Regions from separate parts of the Homo sapiens genome. Here all the other regions are linked to region 2. The links come from fine-mapping of genetic effects on gene expression. A gene starts in region 2. Each other region holds a variant in brackets. All regions are shown on one strand. Distances are from middle to middle. Region 1 has its middle 24 kb from the start of CTPS1. Region 2 holds the start of CTPS1 (CTP synthase 1). Region 3 overlaps SCMH1 (Scm polycomb group protein homolog 1).

Region 1 (8,193 bases), 25 kb before region 2:
CTTGGCACAGTTCTCTCTTTTTGAACTGACTGATTAACTGATTGAGACAGGATCTCACTCTGTTAGCCCAGGTTGGAGTGCAGTGGCGAGAATATGATTCACTGTAGCCTCAACTTCCTGAGCTCAAGCAATCCTCCCAACTTAGCCTCCAGAGTAGCTGGGACCACAGGCGCCAGCCACCATGCCAGGCTAATTAAAAAAAAAATTTGTTTTTTAAGAGTCAGGGACTTGCCATGTTGCCCAGTCTGGTCTCAAACTTCTGGGTTCAAGCCATCCTCCCACCTTGGCCTTCCAAAGTGCTGGGATTACAGGTGTGAGCCACTGCACCCAGCCTGTTCTGTCTTTTTGGAATGACTTTCTCTCCCTTTTTTATCTAGTTGACTCCTAGACACTGCCTCCAGGAAGCCTTCTATGCTTGGCCCTTGGCTCCCTTGAGTCAGTGCCTTTCCGCAGCTTGCTGGATCAGTCCTTTGAAGGAACTTGCTATAGTGTGCAGTGTTTTCTTAGACCAGCAACTCTCACCCTTGACACCATCAGAATCACCAGAGGGGCTTGTTAGAACAGAGATTGCTGGCCACGGGCCCCAGAGTGTCTGATTCAGCAGGTCTGCAGTGGGTCCCGAGAATCTGTGCGTCTGCTCATTCACAGGAGATGCCAGGCCTCCTGACCCGGGGAACACACTTTGAGAACCGCTGGCTTAGACCACATGGTCTAGGACAGCAGGGATCTTGCCTATTTGTTCCCCCACTGCACCTCCAGCAGCACCTCACAGTCTCAGCCATTACATGGAAAGACAAAGTCAAATAACAAGACGTAATGTAGAAGATTTCCCAAGGCCTGTGTGCTGAGCACACAGGTCGGGCCCCGGCTGGAGGTGCGAACTGTCTCCGAGAGCGCCAGGTGAGTGCCCAGCGGGAGCAGAACGGGAATGGCAGGAGGCCCGTGCTCTGGGTCAGAGCGCCCTCTGGTGCCAACATCTCAGCTCTGCACCTGGAGCTGAAATTAGGTGACATCAAGGCAGACCCCAACCGACCTCCCAGCCCCTGGTTTTCCCCTCTCAGCCTCGTCCATGTCACCACCAGGAGTAACTTGCTAAAATCCAGCTCTGACCCTACTCGCCTTTGCCCTTCTCCCAGCTTAAGCCCCGCACTTGGCTCTCCACTGCCTTCTGGACAAACCTCAGCATTCAAGGTCCTTGGCTGTCCTCTGGTGACTCTGTTGCTTTCTGTCCTTCAGTATCCTGTGGCTCTCCTCAGGCACTCTTTAATTTGTCCACACCAGGCAGGTCATGGACTTTATGCCTTCTTACAAGCTATTCCTAACAGGACTGCAACCCCACCTTCTCCTCCAGAGAAACTGATCCTTTTTAATGTCAAATGTGGCCTCTTCTGTGAAGCCTTCCTGGATTCTCCCAGGCAGAAGCGATTGTTTCTTCCATTGTGTCTGTATAGCCTAGTGCACAGGCCACTGCGGAGTGGGGTCTGGGTCCTCCTTGAGACCATGAGCTCCTTCGGGCTCCTGACTCAGCTTTGGTGTATCAATAAATGCTGGAATCTACAAAGCTGTTTTCCCTCTTCAAAGCTAAAACCCACTGTCTACTACCTAAGTCTGCATAGATCCTTAGATATTCAATCATTTATTCAACCAGCAAATATACTTGAGGCCTTTCTTCTTCTTCTTCTTTTTTTTTTTTGAGACGGAGTCTCGCTCTGTCGCCCAGGCTGGAGTGCAATGGCGCTATCTCGGCTCACTGCAAGCTCCGCCTCCTGGGTTCATGCCATTCTCCTGCCTCAGCCTCCCCAGCAGCTGGGACTACAGGCACCCACCACCACGCCCGGCTAATTTTTTTTTTTTTTTTGTATTTTTAGTAGAGACGGGGTTTCACCGTGTTAGCCAGGATGGTCTCGATCTCCTGACCTCGTGATCCACCTGCCTCGGCCTCCCAAAGTGCTGGGATTACAGGCGTGAGCCACCGCGCCCAGCCTCTTCTTTTTTTTTTTTTTTTTGATGGAGTTTCAAGCCCAGGCTGGAGTGCAATTGCATGATCTCAGCTCACTGCAACCTCTGCCTCCAGGGTTCAAGCGATTCTCCTGCCTCAGCCTCCCGAGTAGCTGGGATTACAGGCATGTGCCACCATGCCTGGCTAATTTTGTATTTTTAATAGAGACGGGGTTTCTCTATGTTGGTCAGGCTGGTCTCGAACTCCTGACCTCAGGTGATCCGTCTACCTCGGCCTCCCAAAGTGCTGGGATTATACGCATGAGCCACCACACCCGGACAAGGCCTTTCTTCTGGCAGGCATTAATCAATTCCAGTGCAGGGGATACAGAGGAGAATAAAACAAGACGAAGTTCCTGGCCTCTGAGCTTATATTATGGTAGGAGAGAATGACAATAAACAAAATACTGTGTATTAAATACTGTTAAGCCAAGCTGTGCTAAATTGCATAGAGAAATTAAGCAGGGTAAAGGATAGAAGTTGATGGAGTGGTTCTATTTCAGGCAGTGTGGTTAAGAAAATACTCACTGATGGCCGGGCGCAGTGGCTCACACCTGTTATCCCAGCACTCTGGGAGGCCGACGCGGGTGGATCATGAGGTCAAGAGTTCGAGACCAGCCTGGGCAACATGGTGAAACCCTTTCTCTACTAAAAATACACAAATAAGCTGGGCATGGTGGCACACACCTGTAATCCCAGCTACTCAGGAGGCTGAGGCAGGAGAATCACATGAATCCCGGAGGTGGAGGTTGCAGTGAACCAAGATAGGGTCACTGCAATCTAGCCTGGGCGACAAATCGAGACTCGTCTAAAAAAAAAAAGGAAAAAAGAAAATACTCACTGATAAGGTGGCATTTGAGCAAAGACACAAACAAAGTGCAGATGTGAACCGTGCATGTGTCTGGGGGGAGGTATTCCTGCAGCGTGCAAAGTCCCTGTGATAGGAACGTGCTTAGCATGCTCTAGAAACTGCAAGTTGGCTGGTGTTTTAGGTCAGGCGATCTGGAAGCAGACTCTGAGAGGATTCCTGTATAAGTGATTGATTAGTGCTCCCTTAGGGGTAGGGTGGGGAATAACCAGCAAGGGTGTAGGGGAAGCAGGGCAGGGAAGAGGAGGAAGCCAAGCAAGCGTGTGATTTCATGCGAAATCCGGAGGAAGGTAGTCTCACCCTGATCCCACGGGGGTGGGGCGGGGTGGGGTAAGGTAGAGTCGGGTAGGAAGGGGAGCTCTGGCATATAAGTTACACCTCAGTGTTTGTTCCAACCTAAGGCAAGGTTGCTGAGACTTTCAAACTCTCCTCCCATTAACATCTGGCTAGGGTCATCCCAGGGAGCTTTTTCAAGTAAATTCTCAGGCACTTCCTCTGGGCAAAGTGGGCTCCAGTAGCGCCCTATCCAAAGAGCCATAGGTACTAGGTACTAGGTGTTGGGTACTAAGTACTAAATGTTAAGAGAAAAAGCTTAGCAAAGTTGGGGGCACACACAACATGAAGGAAAAGGGGATCTTAAAAGGATCTGGGTAAAATGCTAACAGTACCTGTGAAAGTCAGTGAGGTAGAAGAACAGAAGTCAGAGTAGAATCGTAAGAGAAGAGATAGTCAGCTGAGGCCAGATCAGGTAAATCAATATCTGATTTCACTCAAATAGGCAATGTGCTGAGCTAAAAAATCCACAGCTCTCCTTGCATCTAGGGGCGGCCAGTTCCACATACTCAAATGTCGATAAAAGTCAGCTGGAGGCACCTAAGAAAGCATTCATTTCCTGATAGAGGCACCACATTTTCTTCCTTGCCACTCCCTTCTTTTTGCCTGGAATGTGAACCCGAGGCTGGGGGTAAAGCAGTCATCTTGTAACCATGAGGTCACAGTGAGGCAAATGTGAGAGTAAAAGCTTTGTACTAAGCATGGTGGAGGGGCCTGAGACCCTGGTGATGTTGCAGAGAGGCTGCACTAGCCTGGGACGCCTGTCTCTAGACTTAATATCTTTTTTTGAAAGTTAACAAATCCCTATTCGATGAAGTCTGGCTTTCTGTTACATGCCAGTGGGCATCATCCCTAACCAATACTTCCTCCAAAGAGTTATAGATCTACACAGCCTCCTACATTCTGTGAGAGCACTTGTTCCCACTCAAATGCGCTGGACGTTATAAAGCTTTTTCCAGTTTGCCAATCTTCCACGTGACAAATCCTATCTTGTTTTCTTTCGGTTTTTGTTGTTTTGAGACGGCGTCTCACTCTGTTGCCCCGGCTGGAGTGCAATGGCGCGATCTCGGCTCACTGCAACCTCCGCCTCCCGGGTTCAAGCCATTCTCCTGCCTCAGCCTCTCAAATAGCTGGGATTACAGGCGCGCGCCACCACGCCCGGCTAATTGTTGTATTTTCAGTAGAGACGGGGTTTCACCATGTTGGTCAGGCTGGTCTCAAACTCCTGACCTCAGGTGTCACCACCCGCCTCGGCCTCCCAAAGTGCTGGGATTACAGGCATAAGCCACCACACCCGGCCTATCTTGTTTTATTGTGAATATGAGTTATGAGTGAGGTTGAGTATTTTTATATGTTTTTTGTGCATTTGTGTTTACGTGAAACTACATGTTTCTGTGCCTTGCCCACTTCCATTTGAAGGC[CAAAAAA/C]AAAAAAAAAAAAAAATCACAGCGGGCACTGGCATCTTAAGGGTTCTGAGAATTCCTGCAGCATGCAATGTGCATTTTAACTTTAGCATGGAATTCTCCAAAATTATTTGACCACATAACATATTTTGTCTTGGAAACCCTATTTCTATTAGTTAGGACTGAGCTTTCTAACTGGCATGCCATAAATGAGCCACAAGCATGTTGACCTATTCAACTACTCAAAATTTGACAAGAGCCAAAACATATTTGAACACTGTTAGATAGCTTCCTCTATGAACTTCCTGAATTAGGTAATAATTATTTTGGTGGTTAAGATTTTATTCAAAGCACTTGCCGCCAGAAAGACTTTGTCATGGCCACATTGTCCCACACTCCACAGAATAGTCTGACTATGATCCTAGTCATGATTTGTTTATCTGTTTATCAGCTGCAACTGATAAATTCTTCTTTATTTTGCAAGTACATATAAAATATTGGCTTTTCTTTAACTTAATAATTTTCTCTTATTTTTCTAACATAAAAGTATGGATATTATTATTTAATGTTATGTGTTTCCCTATAGAAAATGAGTTATTTTGGGCAGGGCATGGTGGTGCACGCCTGTAATCCCAGCACTTTGGGAGGCCGAGGCAGGCAAATCACGAGGTCAGGTGTTTGAGACCAGCCTGCCCAACACGGTGAAACCACATCTCTACTAAAAATACAAATATTAGCAGGGCATGGTAGCACACACATGTAGTCCCAGCTACTTAGGAGGCTGAGGCAGGAAAATTGCTTGAACCCAGGAGGTGGAGGTTGCAGTGAGCCAAGATCACACCACTGCACTCCAGCCTGGGCAACAGAGCAAGACTCTGTCTCAAAAAAAAAAAAAGAAAGAAAGAAAAGAAAATGAGTTATGTTGTTAATTTTCTCAATTGCTGTTTCTTGATTGGGGGAGTGTCTGTTCATTTTTAATGTTAACAATGAATACAGTTTGTTTTTTATTTTTTTATTTTTTTTGAGATGGAGTCTGGCTCTGTCACCCAGGCTGGAGTGCAGTGGCATGATCTCAGCTCACTGCAGCTTCCACCTCCCGGGTTCAAGTGATTCTCCTGCCACAGCCTCTCAAGTAGCTGGAATTACAGGCATGCACCACAATGCCCAGCTAATTTTTGTATTTTTAGTAGAGTCAGAGTTTGGCCATGTTGACCAGGCTGGTCTCGAACTTCTGACCTCAAGTGATCTGCCTGCCTCGGCCTCTCAAAGTGCTGGGATTACAGGTGTGAACCACCGCGCCTGGACGCCTACAGTTTGATTCTTGATGGAATTTCAGGATGAGTTATTGTTTGCTTTTAAAAATGAAAAAATGGGGCCGGGCGCGGTGGCTCACGCCTGTAATCCCAGCACTTTGGGAGGCCGAGGCGGGTGGATCACGAGGTCAGGAGGTCGAGACCATCCTGGCTAATACGGTGAAACCCCGTCTCTACTAAAAATACAAAAAAAAATTAGCCGGGCGTGGTAGCGGGCGCCTGTAGTCCCAGCTACTCGGGAGGTTGAGGCAGGAGAATGGCGTGAACCCGGGAGGCGGAGCTTGCAGTGAGCCAAGATAGCGCCACTGCAGTCCAGCCTGGGCAAAAGAGCGAGACTCCGTCTCAAAAAAAAAAAAAAAAGAAAAGAAAAAATGGTCTGGGTGTGGGGGCTCACGCCTGTAATCCCAGCACTTTGGGAGGCCGAGGTGGGCAGATCACTTGAGCCTAGGAGCTGGAGACTAGCCTGGGCAACATGATGAAACCCTGTCTCCACCAAAAAATACAAAAATTAGCCAGGTGTGGTGGTGCACACCTGTAGTCCCAGCTCCTCAGGAGGCTGAGGCGGGAAGATCATTTCAGCCTGGAAAGTGGGGGCTGCAGTGAGCTGTGATTGCACCACTGCACTCCAGCCTGGGCAATGGGAATGAGACCCTGTTTCAAAAAAAAAAAAAGGTTTCTAAAGTTAACATATACCTACTCTGACCCAATGTTTCCAGTTCTAACTATTCATTCAATAGCAACAGGTGCATATGCCCACAAAAAGACATGTGCAAGCATGTGTGTAGCAGCTTTATTCATTACAGCCCCAAACTAGAAACAGCCCAAATGTTCAACAGGTGAATGAATAAAGAAATTGTGGTATATCCATACAATGGAATACTATTTAACAATAAAAAGAAATAAACTTTAGCCATAAGCAACAACAAAGATGGATTTCTCCAACATGATACTGAGAGAAAAAAGCCAAAAAAAAAAGAGTATGTACTATATGATTCCATTGGTGCAAAGTCCTAGAACAGGCAAATCCAACCCACAGTGATAAAAGCCAGATTAGTGGTTATGAGTGAAGAAGTTAAGTCACCTTGCGGAAGGATTGAAATTGTCTCTATTTGAATCTGATACTTTTTTTTTTAGCCAAAAAAAAAAAAAAATCTATAACATAGAGATGTGGTCTTGCTATGTTGCCTAGGCTGGTTTCAAACTCCTGGCCTCAAGCAATCCTCCTGCCTCGGCCTCACAAAGTGTTGGGATTGCAGGTGTGAGCTGCTGCGCCTGGCCTAAATGAGCATTTTGAATAGACTAAGATCTGTGTCCACAATGGATGAGTCTGTGTTTGCAGCAGGTGGCTACCACAACAAGGTATCAAGGTTTCACAAGATCGTTCCAAAAAATCCTGAGATTCAAGCAATACATTTTTTTTCTTTTTGAGACGGAGTCTTGCTCTGTCGCCCAGGCTGGAGTGCAGTGGTGTCATCTCAGCTCACTGCAACCTCCACCTCCCAGGCTCAAGCAGTTCTCCTGCCTCAGCCTCCTGAGTAGCTTGGATTGCAGGCGCGCGCCACCACCCTGACTAATTTTTGTATTTTAGTAGATACCGGGTGTCAGGCCTCTGAGCCCAAGCTAAGCCATCATATCCCCTGTGACCTGCACGTATACATCCAGATGGCCTGAAGCAACTGAGGAACCACAAAAGATGACATTCCACCATTGTGATCTGTTCCTGCCCCACCCTAACTGATCGATTGACTTTATGACAACACATCCTCCTAATGCACTTTGTGATATTCCTCCGCCCTTAAGAAGGTACTTTGTAATATTCTCCCCGCCCTTGAGAATATACTTTGTGAGATCCACCCCCTGACCACAAAAAATTGCTCCTAACTCCACTGCCTATCCCAAACTTATAAGAACTAATGATAATCCCACCACTCTTTGCTGACTCTTTTTTCAGACTCAGTCTGCCTGCACCCAGGTGAAATAAACAGCCCTGTTGCTCACACAAAGCCTGTTGGTGGACTGTCTTCACACAGACGCGCGTGACACGGGTTTTCACCATGTTGGCCAGGCTGGTCTCAAACTCCTGACCTCAGATGATCTGCCCGCCTTGGCCTCCCAAAGTGCTGGTATTACAGGCGTGAGCCACTGCGCCCAGCCGCAATACATTCTTTTTTTAAAAAATTTAACCAGAAGCCCAAACCTCACCACACATTCTTTTATTCACAGACATGCTATTGAATATAAAGGTTTCCTTAAAGATCTGAAATCCACAATAGATGAT
Region 2 (8,193 bases):
GCCAAGTAAAGGACACCCACCTTTTAAGGAGGAAATGATCAGCTGTGACAAATGCTCTTAGGGAAGTGGTCAGTTTGGGGGCAGCTCTGGGGCTGTATAGCTGCACCTAGGAGCCCAAAAGGAGACTGGGCCTATGGTGGGGGAGAGAAGCAGCCCAAATATGTAAATACATACACATGCGCACGTGCACACACACATATGCATTCATGCCATGCACATACAGCCACACTGTTGTCTATTTTTTTTTTTTTTTGAGACGGAGTCTCGCTCGTCGCCCAGGCTGAAGTGCAGTGGTGCAATCTTGGCTCACTGCAACCTCCGCCTCCCAGGTTCAAGTGATTCTCCTGCCTCAGCCTCCTGAGTAGCTGGGACTACAGGCGCCTGCCACCACGTCTGGCTAAGTTTTGTATTTTTAGTAGAGACGGGGTTTCACCATATTTGCAAACTGGTCTCGAACTCCTGACCTTGTGATCCACCCATCTCAGGCTCCCGAAGTGCTGGGATTACAGGCATGAGCCACTGCGCCCAGCCCACTGTTGTCTTTATTTGGGACTTACGGACATTAGAGATTGGAGTCTAGGCTGATGTACAAAGAAGAGGTCTGAGAACATGGAGGTTAATTTTTGACGAGATCAGTTTCAGTGAAATTATATGAGCAAAATATCCAGATTGGAATGAGTTCAAGAGAGGGAAGAAATTGAGACAGCAAAGTACAAACAACATTTTTTAGGAGTTGTGCTGAAAAGTGAAACAGAAATGGAGGGGGAGCTAGAGAATGGCATAGAGTCAGGAGAGGGGTTTTAAGATGGAACAAATTGCAGCATGTTTGCATCACGGTAGTGGAAAAGATCTACTAGACAGGGAAAGACTGATGACGCAGGAAGGGACATTCTACTAGACATTCTTGAGTTGATGAAAGGATATGGCACTTGCATACTAGACATTCTTTGAGTTGACAAATGGATATGGCACTTGGAGCAAAGAGGAGGTTGACCTCTGGGAGTGTGGGCAGTTTGTCCACAGTAACAGGAGACAACGCAGAGCTTGTGCGCAGATAAAAGTGGTTGGTGGATATGAAAAATCTACTGATGGCTTCTATTTTCTCGTGAAATGGGAAGCAAGACCACCAGCTGAGGAGAATATGGGGGAGGAGATGGAAGAGCTTTGAGGAAGAAGACAATGTCAAGTGGTCATTCAGAGGAGTGGTTGGGTGAATGGCTCATTTTTCCATCTCCCATAGCATCTTCATTACCTCAGCAAGTATGTTCTCAGCATCTGTTATGTTCCAGGCACTTTGATAAACATCAAATGCTTCTTGAAAGAAGATGTGGCTGTAGAGTACCTTCAAAGACAACCCAAACTTTTTTTTTTTTTTTTTGAGATAGAGTCTCACTCTGCCCAGGCTGGAGTGCAGTGGTGGGATCCTAGCTCCCATTGGCCTTGAATTCCTGGGTTCAAGCATTCCTCCAGCCTCAGGCTCTGGAGTAGCCAGGACTACAGATGCGTGCCACCATGCTCAGCTAATTTTTGTATTTTTTGTAGAGATGGGGTCTCACTATATTGCCTAGGCTGGTCTTGAACTCCTGGACTCAAGAAATCCTCCCACCCTGTGTCAGCCTCCCAAAGTGTCAGGATCACAAGTGTGAGCCACTATGCCTGGCATTCCAAACATTTTTTAGATTTGGAGCTGAATGCAGCATGGGCAGGTTGTCAGGGTTGAAGCACTGGTGATCCAGATCTGGAAGGAGCCAGAAGCCTCTAAAAGAGGCCACTGCAGGAGCCTCCTGACCTGGTTTCTGGGAATCCATCTGCTTCAATGATTTTCCTAAAACACAAATCTGATCCCATCACATCTTTTTTTTTAAAACTCCTTCAGTGAAGATAGTTAAGAACTTGTGGCAGACTGCTTCTAGAGAACAAAACAGGAACACTGGGGTACAGAAATAAGAGATTTACTTTTCATGGATACCCTTGTGTAGTGTTTGGGGAAAAATTATAACCATGTACATATATTCACTATTCAAAGGAAGGTCAAAAGCCTCTCAAAAGTTTCTACAGCTTTCCACTATCCCTAGGAGAAAGAGAAGCCTTTACTTGGTCTATAATGCTCTTCACCGTATGGCCCTACCCAACTCTTCAACCTAATCTCATGTTAATCTCGCTTCCTGTGGCCCTTGTGGACTTGGCTAGACTGGCCTTCCAATTCAGCTGTGCCGGCCTCTTTGGGCTTGTACACAGGCTTTTCCTTCTGCCTCACTTTTAAAAAAAAATTATTATTACTATTTTTATTTTATTTATTTATTCTTTGAGAAGGAGTCTCGCTCTGTCGCCCAGGCTGGAATGCAGTGGTGCAATCTTGGCTCACTGCAACCTCCACCTCCCAGGTTCAAGCTATTCTCCTGCCTCAGCCTCCTGAGTAGCTGGGACTACAGGCACCCACCACCACGCCCAGCTAATTTTTGTATTTTTAGTAGAGACGGGGTTTCACCATATTGGCGAGGCTGGTCTTGAACTCCTGACCTTGTGATCCGCCTGCCTCGGCCTCCCAAAATGTTGGGATTACAGGTGTGAGCCACTGCGCCCGGCCTACTATTATTATTTTTATAAGAAACGGGGTCTCGCTATGTTACCCAAGTTGGTCTCGAACTGTTGGGCTCAAGCATGTCTCACTTTCTTATCCCCGCCTCTCCCTTTCCCATCTTTGCCGTCTACTTAGGTCTCTGCTTCAAAGTTACTTTTTCAGGGCGGGCTTCCCGCCTGAATTCCCAATCACCACCGGACTTGGGTCAGTCCCCGCGCTGGGCACTCACTGCCCCGGCACCAGCATCTCTGCAGCAAGCACCCATAACAACCATAAAGTGTAATGAGCTGCTCAGTGTGCCTCCCTACATCGTTAGTCCGAGGAGAGGGTCCCTCGGTGCCCAGCACAGTGCGTGGCACAGTCGGTGCTCAGGGAGCGATAGCTAGATGAAACCGTACTTTTCGGGATCCTAGTCCATCCAAAGCAGCCGCCTTCGGGGCAGGTGTGGGGAGGAGGGAGGCCGACGAGGAGCCAACGCCGCGCGACCCTCCGCACTTCCGTCTTGGAGGCCAGGGTGGCGCTGCCGCCGTCCCTCGCCCGGAGGCAGAGATGCGCTGGCGCATCACCGCCAGGAGCCCACAGTGAAAGACCATCGGATGGAAGGCGACGCCCAGAACTCCAGGAGACCGCTGTGGGAGGACGCGAGGCCAGGTGACGAATAGGCCAGGCGTGAGTTCCCAAACAGCCTCCTCCCCTTCAAGAGAGTAAGCTTGGGCCACAGGCTGGGACGGAAGCAGAGGGGCAGACACGCCACCACCCGCCCGGCCTCGAACCTACGGCGGCACAGTTCAGCGGAGGCGGCCCAGCGGTCCTGTCCCGCGCCTGCGCACTCCAGGCCCCGCCCCGCCCCGCGCCCTCCAGGCCCGGCCCGCCCTCCAACCTCTGCGTGCGCACAGCCTAGAGCCCGCCTCCGTGAAAGACTGCCGGGCGCATGCGGTCGGGGTTGTTCACTGGCTGTCCGGGGCTCCGCGCGCGTCGCCGGCCCAGCTCTGTCGCTGACGGGAGGATCTGAAGCCGGCCGCAGGTAGGCTGACTCCAGGGATCCCGGGGGGGATCTGTTCTCCCGCGCAGGAGTCAGCGGCGCGAGCTGAGCCCGGCGCCGAATAGCCCCGCCGCCGCGGTGACGGACGTCGCTCCTACCAATCAGGGGCGAGGTGACTCGGCGTCCTGCCCAATGGGCTGTGTGCCTAACGGGAGTGGGGCGGGCGCCCCGGCCGGCGAGCTGCCGGCTCCCGCGCGCGGGCCTCGTGGCCGGGCGGCGCTGGGGAGAGGGGCCAAGCGGGGCGCGGGGCGGCTTCAGAGGCTGCGGGGCCTGCGCTGCCGCGCTGGGCCGCGCCGAATCAGCTCGGCCGGGCTCGTCGGACGGAGAAGGCCGTAGGGGAGTGGAGCGGCGCCCCCCCCCACACCCTCCGCCCTTGCTCTTCGTCTGCGAGGAAGCCCGGCAGTCGCCCATCCATTCAAGCAGTGCGGGCCTCGGGCCTCCGGCCTCGGCGCGGGCTCAGCCGCCCGGGGCTGGGCGCGGCAGCTCCGCGCCGTAGGACGAGGGGGCCTGCGAACTCGCCGGCCCTGGGCCCCGCGGCTGGCCTTTGGGCCTCACGGCTTCCTCCCTTCCCGGCGGCCGGGGGTCGGGGCGCTGGCGGTGTATAGAGCTCACCACGTTTGCGTGGCGCCCTTCCGTCCACGCTCGTTACAGTTTCGAATCCTCAGCGGCCCTGTGACGCGGGCGGCGCAGAGATTCTCACCCCCATTCCCCTAGGTGAGAACCCGCGTTGCAGGCAGCTCAAGTGACATGATTGAGGTCTGCACACTAGTGATGGGGGCTGGCACTTCATCTCATAACATTGAAAGAAAAAGCATTTCCCCCCTCAGTCTTTGTTGAATTTCTCTGATGCGTCTTGATTTACGTTACTTCTGTGCCGGAAAACCTTCTTGCGCCTTCCGTCACCTTCAGGATTAAGTTCAGATTGGGCATGCCAGTTTGCACATGATCTGGCCCTTGCCTACCTTTCCAGTTTATCTTCCACTGTATATCCCTGCTTCCCCGCCTTCCCCCTCACGGCCTTACCTCTGTTCTCTGTAGCTGCCCTGCACCTGCCTGTTCACCCTGTTCCCTTTCCTGTGCTCTGAGTCGTGCAGTCAGTCCTTCAAGGCCCATTGCAAGTCATATCTACAAAACAGGAGCCGCCTGGATCCGCCCACTACCCCCAGGACTTGTCTCACCTTCCTCTGATGGCCATGGTACTGAAAGCGTCTGCTCTCATCGTCCCCCTTTATAGTCTAAACATGTTTTCTGTCTGCTTCCACCGTCACTGAATTACTCATTTATTTGTTAATGTTTCATCTCTCCAACTGGACTGCCAGAAAGTTGAGATATGGGCCCAAATCTGATTAATGTTTGCAGTCCCCAAGCACAGTAGCTGTCATGTAAGTCAGTAGCCCATAAGGATGAATGAATGAGCCTCCCGCCTGATCTTTATGTACACTGGCATATGTATTGCCAGGCACTGAGACTGCAAGAATCTAAAGAGAGAAACTAAAGAACGTAAAGAGAGATGTTAAACTCTTAGAGTAAAATTGGGACAAATCAAATGTAATTGGATGAGATGAATCTTTTGTAGAAGTAACTCACTCGGTGGCAGAGGAATTTCTAGGATCATCCAAAACTTAGGGAGACCAGGGTATAGTCTCAGTAAGGTATATGTCTGGTTAGAACATATCTAAAATGTACCTAAGACTGATTTTCATGTGTCAATAAGGAACTGTAAAGTGAGAGACTTAGGGTCAGATAAGCTTGGAGACACCGCATACTGTATAGCAGTGATCACAGTGCGAGTTTACTTGCTAAACACTCCCAGGATTCTTGCGTTAAATGACTTGGTTTAATCAGCGTTTCTCTGATTTATATCCATAACACCCTTTTTGAGAATCCCATGTGCATTTTGTTGAAACCAGGGAGCATGCTTTTGGAAATGCTGCAGCAGAGGATGCAAAGAGCCTTTGGAGCGGGGAAGACTTCTGAGCATTCTTCCTTCCCTGCCAAGTGTGTTCTTTCTTGCTCTGGGGAGGGGGTGGGGCGGGGGAATGCTTCGAGCACAACTCCTTAGTTTTCTTGTTCCTTAGTTTATTTTTATCATAATTTGGCTTCACATGGAACGTTCCTGAGGAGGAAAATGTCCTGACCATGCCAAAGTAAGCATTTTCTGCTACTTTCTAATTGTGTTTTTCATTTTGGTCACATTTGGGTTTGCTGACCAAATGGACGATCCTGGACCTCTGAAGCTGGGGACCAGTGATAAATCCTCCGTGGTGAGCCTGTCACGGTCTCCTCACCTCTTGTCGATGCTGTTTTCACCTGCATCTTGACTCTGCTGCCCTTATATCTTATTTCTCCTTTCCCTGCCACCGTGGCACTGCTTTTTGGATTTAATCTCATCTCCCCTCTCTTTGAGTCCTCTGCCCGTCATGTGCTTCAGACTGGTTTCTTATCTGATGTCCCTCTCCCCCAGTATTTACAGTCTCTCTTCATTGCATGCCTGGGAGAGATTTCTGACAAGGAGCAAGTTGTTGTTAAATTATAGAAGAGAACTACTTTTTCTTTTTTTTTGAGGTAGTCTTATTCTGTCGCGCACGCTGGAGTGCAGTGGCATGATCCCAGCTCACTGCAACCTCTGTCTCCTGGGTTCAAGCGATTCTCCTGCCTCAGTCTCCTGAGTAACTGGGACTACAGGCGTGCGCCATCACAGCCGGCTAATTTTTGTATTTTTAGTAGAGATGCGGTTTCCCCATATTGGCCAGGCTGGTCTCGAACTCCTGACCTCAAGTGATCCTCCTGGCTCTGCCTCCCAAAGTGCTGGGATTACAGGCATGAGCCACCATGCCCAGCCAGAGAACTACTTTTAATTAAAGGAATTTTGGTTTAGCTGCAACCACTTTTAAATGTTGATGTTCTTTCCTTTTAGTCTATCTTTTGTAACCTAGAGGAGCTGTGTTTTCTTGATGATATGTTGTAGTTTAGCCAAAGACATTATTTATTTCCTGGAGAACTGGAGTACTTATCCAAGTTTGAATTTTTTTCCCATGTAGGGAAAATAATGAGGCACCTGCCTGGTATCCCAGTGTCTGGCAGTGATGTCAGCAAACATTTGGGGTGTAGTGTTCTATCAGCCAGCTTAGAGCTGGTTTTATTAGGTTGACTCTGAAGGTTATTAGTTGTCAAAGCTTTAAACAAAAGCTGTGTTATTAGAGTAGCAGTTGTTTTTCTACACGTATTTGACTAAAGCCATTCAGTGATCCAAGAAATGTTTGTTTTGATCCTATTTAAACCTGACGAGAACCTTCTGAAGTCCTGTGACAGAGAAACTGAGGCTTCAAGAGGGTTCATAGCTAATAATTGGCAGAGCCAGTGTTTGAACCCAGATGAGTTTGGTTTGTTGAGATACATTTATATCATCTGTAATTTTTCCTTCTTCCAGGTCAAAGAGTAAAATGAAGTACATTCTGGTTACTGGTGGTGTTATATCAGGAATTGGAAAAGGAATCATTGCCAGCAGTGTGGGCACAATACTCAAGTCATGTGGTTTACATGTAACTTCAATCAAAATTGACCCCTACATTAACATTGATGCAGGAACATTCTCTCCTTATGAGCATGGTAAGCACAGTGGATTTCTTCATAATAATTGCATGTGGCAGAACATGTCAGCACTTGGGAATTATGTGCACGGTTTGCATAACTTTTATTTTCTGCCTTCTAACAGGTCCCTTAATACAGCAGAATGATACTTTTCTCACCTAGAAAGGAAGAAGCAGAATTCTTTTTTTTTTTTTTTTTCTTTGAGACAGGATCCCACTCTGTCCCTCAGGCTGGAGTGTAGTGGTGTGATCATGGCTCGCTGCAGCTTCCACCTCCTTGGCTCAAGCGATCCTCTCACCTCAGCCTCCTGAGTAGCTGGGACTACAGGTGTAAATCACCATGCCTGGCTAATTTCTAAATTTTTTGTACAGGTGGGGTTCCACTGTGTTGTCCAGGCTGGTCTTGGGTCCTCCCACCTGTAATCCCAAAGTGCTGGGTTTTATAGGTGTGAGCCACCATGCCCGACTGCCTTTTACTTCTTTGTTGTTATTGAGAACCTGTCAATGGTGTGACATACAGCTGTGGCTGTTACTTCAAAGATTAATTGCTTAAAACTGGGAGAGATGTTAAAACATACCTCTTAAGTTTTAAAATTCTGCATTCGTACTCCTACTCTCTAGCGTTGAGGTGAAAATATGCAAGCATTAAATGTCACTAGTGCAGAAATCCTCGTAACAAATGGCATCAGGAAAAGATCCATATACCTGAGTGATATTTAATACAGAATTCTTGAGCAGAGGATGAGTTATCTCTCTGAGGGAGAAAATGAGACTTTTTTTCCTTTCCTGTGTTTGAGCTTGTCTCCTATTGTGATGGTAGGAATGAATCATTCTGGGCAAAATTTCTAGAGTGAAGTTTCATGGAATGAATGTGCAACAAAAGAATGGGGTAAATATGTGCAGTTTCACAAAGTTGTTTAGAACAAAAGCAGAGCTCGGAAGCTGATTTTTATAATCAGCACAAGCTTAATATGCATATA
Region 3 (8,193 bases), 180 kb after region 2:
AATTGCAAAATAAGATAATTTTTATGACTTAGTAAGAATGTTTGGACACCTATTGTAATGCCCATGATGAAGCCAGACATAATATTCTGCCATATCTCCAAGCACTAAAGTAACCACAAAAGAAATAGGACAGGCACCAAGGTATAGATCCAGAGTTAGCAAGTCTTCTGTTAAGGACAATATAATAAAAATTTTATGCTTTCTAGGCCATACAGTCTATGTCATAGCTACTCAGCTCCACCACTCCAGTGTGAAAGCAGCCACAGACAGTATGTGTGCCTAAATTAGCATGGCTGTTCCACTCAAACTTTATTTACACAAACAGGCAGAGGGCTGGATTTGACCTCCCAATAGTAGTTTGCCAGACCTCTGGTATAAATCATTGACTCTCAAGTGATACTTATAGTCTCATTTCTTTAAACAAAGTTCTGGGCCTCACCTTCAGAAGTTCTTATTCAGTAGGCTCCAAGTGTGGCCTGAGAATATGTATTTTCCAAGGCTCCCTAGGTAATTTGGATTAACATCTGTGACTAAGAACTACTACTGGTGTAGTTTAAATAATGTAATATTGGGAGTCTGAAGATGTTGGTAAAAGTCTTGTTTCTACAGCTAACTATCTTGGGTAAATTACTTAATCCTTCCAAGCCTAAGTTTACTCATGTGAAAGATGAAGACAATATCTGTCTTACAAGATTGTATATAGATTCTTCATTCAATAAATATTTAAACTTCTCCAAGTACAAAGAACTGTGTTAAATGTTAGGGGAACAAGGTAAGACATGATTTCTCAATTCATGGAGCTTTCAGTCTAGAGATAAACAGAGACATTAATAAACATAACACAAATAATCTGTTATGATAATGATAAAGTTTACGAGGTAGTACAGGTTGTCTTGAGATTGCAGAACATGAAAATCTCATTCATCCTTGGGCTCAGAGATTATTACGAAGATTAATATTATTAACTAACATAGGTATAATGTTTTATAATTTAAACATATATAATGTGAGTGTTTTCAATTATTCCAACATTATAATTCAAAATATTCAAACAGTATAATTTGAATGTTTTCAATTATTCATTCAACAGATACTTATTAACTATCCTCTATGTGCCAGGCAATATGACAGGGGTCCCTGCCCTCATTTACATGCTGGTATATGATGAGACACAACTAACACATAAACAATAAATAAACAAGGCAGTAAGTGAAAAGAACTTGAAGGGAATAAAATGAGGTGATGTGATAGAGACTGGGAGCTATCTTAGTAAAGTCATGGACAGATACTCTTCAGAGGAAATGTCTAAGCTAAGACTTTACAGATGAGAAAAAGCCATCTCATTTAGTAAATAATGCTTATAAAAGTGTTTTTATAAACTCTGATGCATACCACGTGATAGTTACATTTATTATTAAAAAAGAAAAAAAGGTACCTGCCCTGAAGAGACTTAAAAATGGCATTAAAGTACCTTGGCCCATAAAATATGGGCATAAGAGGTCACCTAGTTAAATGCATGAATCACCTTCTCTAATATTCATTCATTCAGCAAATATTTACTAAATACCTAGTATATGTTAAGCCTGGTTCTAGGCACTGGTGATATATAGCAAAATACAATACAGCCAAAGTTTGCCCACATGGAGCTTACAACAAACAAACAAACAATGTTTTGCTCCACATGGAGCAAAAACAAACAAACAAACAAACAAACAATATTTTGCTCCACATGGAGCAAAAACAAACAAACAAACAAACAAACAAATACGTCAGCTGGTCCAGAGGGTAACAGAGACACCAGATTAATTATACAATTCCTGGCTATTTTGAAATTTAAAAAAATAAAAGTAAGAGGTAAAGAAGGTGTGCTATTTTAGCCAGGGCAGTCAAAAAAGACATCTTGATAAGGTGATACAAAAGTTGACATTTGGGCCGGGCGCAGTAGTTCACTCCTGTAATCCCAGCACTTTGGGAGGCTGAGGCGGGCAGATCACCTGAGGTCAGGAGTTCAAGACCAGCCTGGCCAACATGATGAAACCTCGTCTCTACTAAAAGAAATACAAAAATTAGCTGGGCGTGGTGGCAGGCACCTATAATCCCAGCTACTTGGGAGGCTAAGGCAGGAGAACTGCTTGAACCCGGGAGGTGGAGGTTGCAATGAGCTAAGATCGCACCACTGCACTCTAGCCTAGGTGACAGAGTAAGACTCCGTCTCAAAAAAAAAAAAAAAAAAAAAAAGCTGAGATTTGAATGGTCCTTCCAGCCTCTGCTGAAATACTTCCAGTCATGGGACACTCATTATTTAGCTATTTAGCTATTACTCAACAGTACAAATGGACAGACCGCTCTTTATAGTCAGCCAACATCTGCCTTCTAACCTCTACTGGTCCTAGATATATCTAATCTCTATGTCCCAAATCCCTCAACTGCTCCTAATTTGACAGGCTGGCTACTCATGTCTGGCTACTGTTCTGGCCACATTCCTTTACAAGAACTCTACTTTGTTCAACCTAAATGTGAACCCAAATTCTTAAAAACAATTAAGCATAATCAACATCTTTAGATCAGAAATTCCACTCCACTATTACCGTATAAATAGTGTTCCATGTACCAAAATTTAAATAACAATATATTTGTTAAACGCCACTGATGGTAATTTAAGTGTCTTTATTTTATTTTTTTTGAGACGGGGTCTTGCTTTGAGTCAGTGTCAGGCTGGAGTACAGTGGTGTGAACACAGCTAATTGCAGCCTTGACCTCCCGGGCTCAAGCGATCCTCTCATCTCAGCCTCCCTAGTAGCTGGGACTACAGGTGTGTGCCACCATTCCTAGCTAATTTTTGTATTTTTTGTAGAGACAGGGCTATGCCAAATTGCCCAGGCTGTTCTCGAACTCCTGAGCTCAAGTGATCTAACTGCCTCGGCCTCCCAAAGTGCTGGGATTACAGGCATGAGACACAGATTTGGGATTTGTCCTAAGGGTGGGATTAGTGGACAAAGAGCATGCATAGTTTAGATTTTGATACAACATATATATTGCTGAAATATCCTCTAGAAAGAACATACTGATTTTTCTTCTTAGAGGCAGGGTTTCCCTATGGTGCCCAGGCTAGTTGCAAACTCCTAGGCTTGTCATCTTCCTGCCTCGGACTCCCAAAGTGCTGGGATTACAAGTATAAGCCAACTTTTTTTTTTTTTTTTTTTTTGAGACAAAGCCTCACTCAGATACCCAGGATGGAGTGTGGTGGCACAATCATATCTCACTGTAACCCCGATCTGGACTCAAGCAACCCTCCCCGCTCAGTCTCCAGAGTAGCCGGGACTACAGGTGTGCACCACTATGCTTGGCTAATTTTTTTCTTTGTAGTAGAGACAAGGTCTCACTATATTGCCCAGACTCAATTTCTATTCCTACCGAAAGTACACAGGTGTGTTTACCACATATTTGCTAAAACTGTGTTTTAACAATTTCCATAATTTTGACAAATCTTATCAGTGAAAAAATAAAATACTATTATAATTTTATTTGCAATTCTTTGATTACTAATAAAGTCAAAGATCTCTTTAGGCTTATCAGCCAGTCTGTATTTTATTTAGCCATTTTTCTGCTGAGATATTCTTTTGTTTTCTCATAGATTCTAGGAGTTCTTTGTAGATTAAGGAAAAGTCACTAGAAGAATTTTTACTTAATAGAAATAAAGCATCTAGAGAAAGTGTTCTTTTCACTATACCACAGGGTCCCTCTGAAAAGACACAGACTTTCAGGCAACAGAAAGAGAGCCTTAGATAAGGCAGAGAAATCAGAGGTGTTTTCGAAGGTCCAGGCAGATATCCTGATATGAGAAAGGTCTGGATTTGGGAGGCTTCACAGATGTAGAATCACAATATTCAAGCTACAAAGGACCTTAGTGTTTCCTAAAACTCATGGCTTTCTTGGTCCCATATCTTTGCCCATGTTACTCACACTCAGTGACTAAAGCTCAGCAAAAATTTTACATTTTCTGTCAGAAGGCTTTGCAGAAAAGGGCTGGACAAATTTTACCATCTCCCTATCTCCTATAACATCCTGTTCACATCATATCACCATAATTATTTATGTAAGCTCTTTATGGATGGGGGCTTATATTCATTTTTAAAATCTTTACTGTTTAACACAGTGCCTGAAATTTAATAGAGGCTCAATATGAGTTTCTGAGTGAATGAAAAGAAGCACACAAGTAATATTCCTATTCTTTCTTGGACTAATAAAATAATACCTGGGATATAGTTCTGAAAACTACACTTTGA[G/C]AGAGAGCAAATCTGAGTTTAAATGATTACCTAGTGATGGTAAACAGACCCAAAACCACATCACCTGAGGACCAGGTGAAGGAACATGAACAATTAGCATGAGTAAAAAAGTGAAGTCTCAGAGCCATTCCCCATCCATCCAACAAATATTTATAGTGTGTGTCAAAGCACTGTGCTGAGTGCTGGACATATAACTGTAATCAAAATATCATCCTTAACCTCACAGAGCTTCAGTCTAGTGACAGACAGAGAATCTAGTGAGGGACAGAGACTAAACAGTCACCACTAAGATAATGTGATAAGTGCTACACTGGAGAGACAGAGGGTGCTACAGGAGCACCCAGAGTGCTTGTGGAAACTTACCAAAGAAAGCTCTAGGCTTCTAAGCTAAAGTGTAAAAGGATAAGCAGGAGTCAAAGAAAAAGGAAACTCTTTTTGTTTGTTTCAGACAGAAAGAAAGGCATTATAAAGGCCCAGACATGAGAAAAAGCAGTTCTAAATGCAGATCTTTTGGTATGGCTGCTGGGTGGAGTTTACAGAAAAAGTAGTTTAGAAAAAGGTTACAGATAAAGGCAGTGTTCAGTCATTAGCGAGCCAAATATACTGTATTACTGAGAAGAGGAAGTCTTCAAGCGTTTGGGGTGAAGTCATTCTGGCTGTAGTGTAAAGAATGGGCAGGAGGGTGATAGGGCTGGAGGCAAAAAAGACTAGTTAGGAAGCTGTTTTAATAATCTAGGTGTGAGATTCAACTATGAAAGCGGCAGAGTGGCAATGAGAAGGCAGTCCCTAGAGCTTCTCTCTAAAAATCAGGGCCAGTAAGTGAAAAATAGGCTAACCCTGTTTCATATGGCCAGAAAGTCAGAGGGATGACTAACAGAAATTACAAAAAGAGCAAATTTTTGACCAATAAATATGTCTAAATATGAAATGAATTACGTGAGGAGGTTCTAAGTCCTCAAAAACTTGAGGAGTTCAAGATAAGACATTTTACAAAAAATTCAAAATGTTGAGTTTTAAATGCTGGGCAAGGGTAGATTATTTTATGGTCTTTTCCAACTTTGAGATTCCACAGATCTACTGAATTTTATTTCAGTTTGCTATTTGGAGCTGCTCCTTATGCTAGATGGTAAAAATGAAATATGCAGGATTAACTTACATCAGAGGATATGCCTATGCAACCAATGCTCTAGGAAAAATACACTTTCAAATTTTAACATCTTTTAGTAACTGATATACTCTATGTTAAATTGAGTACCCACATTTCACAACTCCCCATCAACAGTTTACAATATGCCTTAAGCTGTCACTGAGCTACAATTGTTATTATCATTCATATTAGCGACAAAACCAAAAACAACAGCAGCTATCACTGTCTTCCATTTGCCTGTACCATGCCAGACTACGTCCATTATCTCCTGTGTTCATTATAACCTGCAAAGTAGGTTTTACTCCCATTTTAAAGATGAGGAAATAGGCTTAGAAAGATTAAGTAATTTGCCTGAAGTCACAAAACTGGTAAGTGGGAATAGGAATTTGAACCTTGGTTCAAATTGTCTGACTCCTATGTCCATGTTTTTTCTACCACACATCAGTACCTTAAAAAGCTTGAGGAAAGTTTTAAAGAATAATAAAAAATAACTATCATTTATCAAGTGCCAGGCACCTTTACCTGCATTATTTCATTTCATTCATTTCTTCAGCTCACATTCATAGAATGCTTCACTTCAAAGAATGTCAGAAGATTTGACTTTTAGAGTAAAGTCTGAGTATAGCCGCTGAACAGAATGAAAATCATAATAATCCTCCAAAGTTGAAAAGTATTTGAGAGTTTTTAAGATGTTTTCACATCCATTAGCTCATGTAATCTTCTTTACAACCCTGTGAAGTAGGCAGAATGGGATTATTATCCCCATTTTACAAATAAGAAAACTAAGGATCAGAGTCACAAAGTTACTAAGTGGCAGAACTGGCTCTCAAAAAGCCTAGGAGTTCTGACTCCTAGTCTAGTGTTCTACTACTTCATGTTATCTTCTGTGTCACTGGGCAATGGAAAGTAATATGTTGCAGGAAAGAAAGGCAAGAGGAGGCAAATAGACAATGATAATAATAGAGCTAAATAAATATCAAGTTGTAACAAAATATATCAAAATACTTGAACAAAAATTGATACAGGTATCTGGATATCAAAATCTATGTAACATATAAAAGGATTTTAAAGGATTCTAAAATGTTAAGACTGATGTTTATGCAGGAACTCTGATTGAGAAGTATTAGAACTAGTTTTATTACTCAAATCTTAGTCCTGAAATACACTAACCAGGGAGGAAAACCAAATGCAATTATTGGTCTGACTTCTTACTTGATAATATTTTAATATTTCAGTTTTTATTTGTCAATAAAGTTAGAAAATGTTTAGGTTTAGTTTCAGTTCAATTTATCTTACAAGTAATTTTTTTGGGGGAAAAATCCCACCAAACACTGATTTATGGATGGCAGGGGTTTGTTTTAGTTCTGGATTCAGTAAATTAAGATGGTATTTCCAGTTTGGTTCAGTTCCTGTTCTCCCCTATACCCCATGTAATTAACCACCTTCCCTCCCTTCTTGTTAGCTTGGTCTGTGGCCTACTGATAAGCAGGACTTGATGTGACAGCTGAGATGAAGTACATGGGATAATTAGGCAGACAAGAGCACAGGATTCACTGGTTTCTGAGACAGAGACACGTGGAATTCTTTTCCTCGTTGGTTAAAACTGGTTATAATCTAATCCCTGGTTTACCAATTCCCCTTATTTAACAGAAACACAAGAAAAATAGCTTACCTAGATCCAGGATGTCAGCAGCTTCTAGTAAAGAAAAAAATGTTGGAGCATAAGTCATTAAGACAAACATACCAACATGATGGAAGGTGAAATTCTGGGGTAAAATAGGAAATCGAGTATTTGTCTAGTTCAGTTATCTCATCCTAAAAGACACTGAGATTCTTAGTAGTCATTGTGGAAGCACACCACCCAATTTTGCCTATTCCCAAGCCTAAACTTATACAAACTATAGAAAACCCAGAGAGGCTAAGCAACCGTGCCTAAAACTATGAAGCTAATTTGGGATTACCTATACTCAGAATCTAGGTTTCCTATTTCCAGCTAAAACAAAGTATATTGCTTATGACCAATACCTCTGTAAACTGCAATATTTGCTTCTGATATAACAATTGAGTTATTTGTAAACTCAGACCTCTAACAACGAAGGTTTTATGGGAAAAGATGCCGAGTAAAATTTTTCCACACCAAACGGAGTTTTTTCCCCCTTACCTTGATATTGGGATGCAGACTCTGATAGGTGACCATATTTGTGTTTTCTAACATCACTCCAGTCTATCACTGCAGAGGGAGAGAAAAATAGTCATGTGGAAAGAAAGTATAAGATTAAATACTTTTCCAATTTGGCAGTATGTATTAACAGTTTTTAATAAAGTAATCCACTTCCGAGATTCTATGCTAAGGAAAAATACTCCAAAATACAAGAAAAAGGTTTTATGTAAAAAGCCTTGGCATTGTTTACAATAACAAAAAAAGGAACACCTAAATGTTCAAAATAGAAGACTGATTAAGATTTGATAATACAAACACTTGACAAAGTATTTTGAAGCTGTTAAATTTTTAAAAGGCTAAAGAACAAATGGGAAAATGGTTATGTTATGTTATTAGGTAAAATATGGGGATAAAAATTATATTCATGGAATGATCACAATTATTTAAAACACTAAAAACAAACAGCACCCCAGTTATGGGCTCAACTGTATCCTCCAAAACTTCATGCTAAGGTCCCCACTCCGCAGTACCGCAGAATGTAACTGTATTTGTGATGGCAGCGGTGGGCCATCTGGAGCAGCTGCTGTCATCATGCCGGC

Evidence for each region. PIP is the estimated chance that this variant, and not a neighbour inherited with it, causes the effect.
Region 1: its variant is fine-mapped to the expression of CTPS1 in whole blood (INTERVAL, PIP above 0.99).
Region 3: its variant is fine-mapped to the expression of CTPS1 in whole blood (TOPMed, PIP above 0.99).

The regions. Positions count from the first base shown.
Region 1 is chr1:40,951,706-40,959,898 of GRCh38, forward strand. No RefSeq gene overlaps it. Among named protein-coding and RNA genes, the nearest start is that of CTPS1, 24 kb to the right of the region's middle. The variant CAAAAAA/C (reference allele first, on the strand shown) is at 4,621.
Region 2 is chr1:40,976,225-40,984,417 of GRCh38, forward strand. It overlaps CTPS1 (CTP synthase 1), which reads left to right and starts at 3,472. Exons shown (of 19, transcript NM_001905.4): 1 at 3,472-3,605; 2 at 7,054-7,232. The coding sequence starts at 7,067. RefSeq lists silencers at 3,261-3,450, 3,721-4,010, 4,081-4,220 and an enhancer at 4,421-4,470.
Region 3 is chr1:41,153,770-41,161,962 of GRCh38, forward strand. SCMH1 (Scm polycomb group protein homolog 1) reads right to left here. Exons shown (of 16, transcript NM_001394311.1): 3 at 7,595-7,663; 4 at 7,106-7,129. Among named protein-coding and RNA genes, the nearest start is that of SCMH1, 84 kb to the right of the region's middle. RefSeq lists a silencer at 2,870-3,059. The variant G/C (reference allele first, on the strand shown) is at 4,287.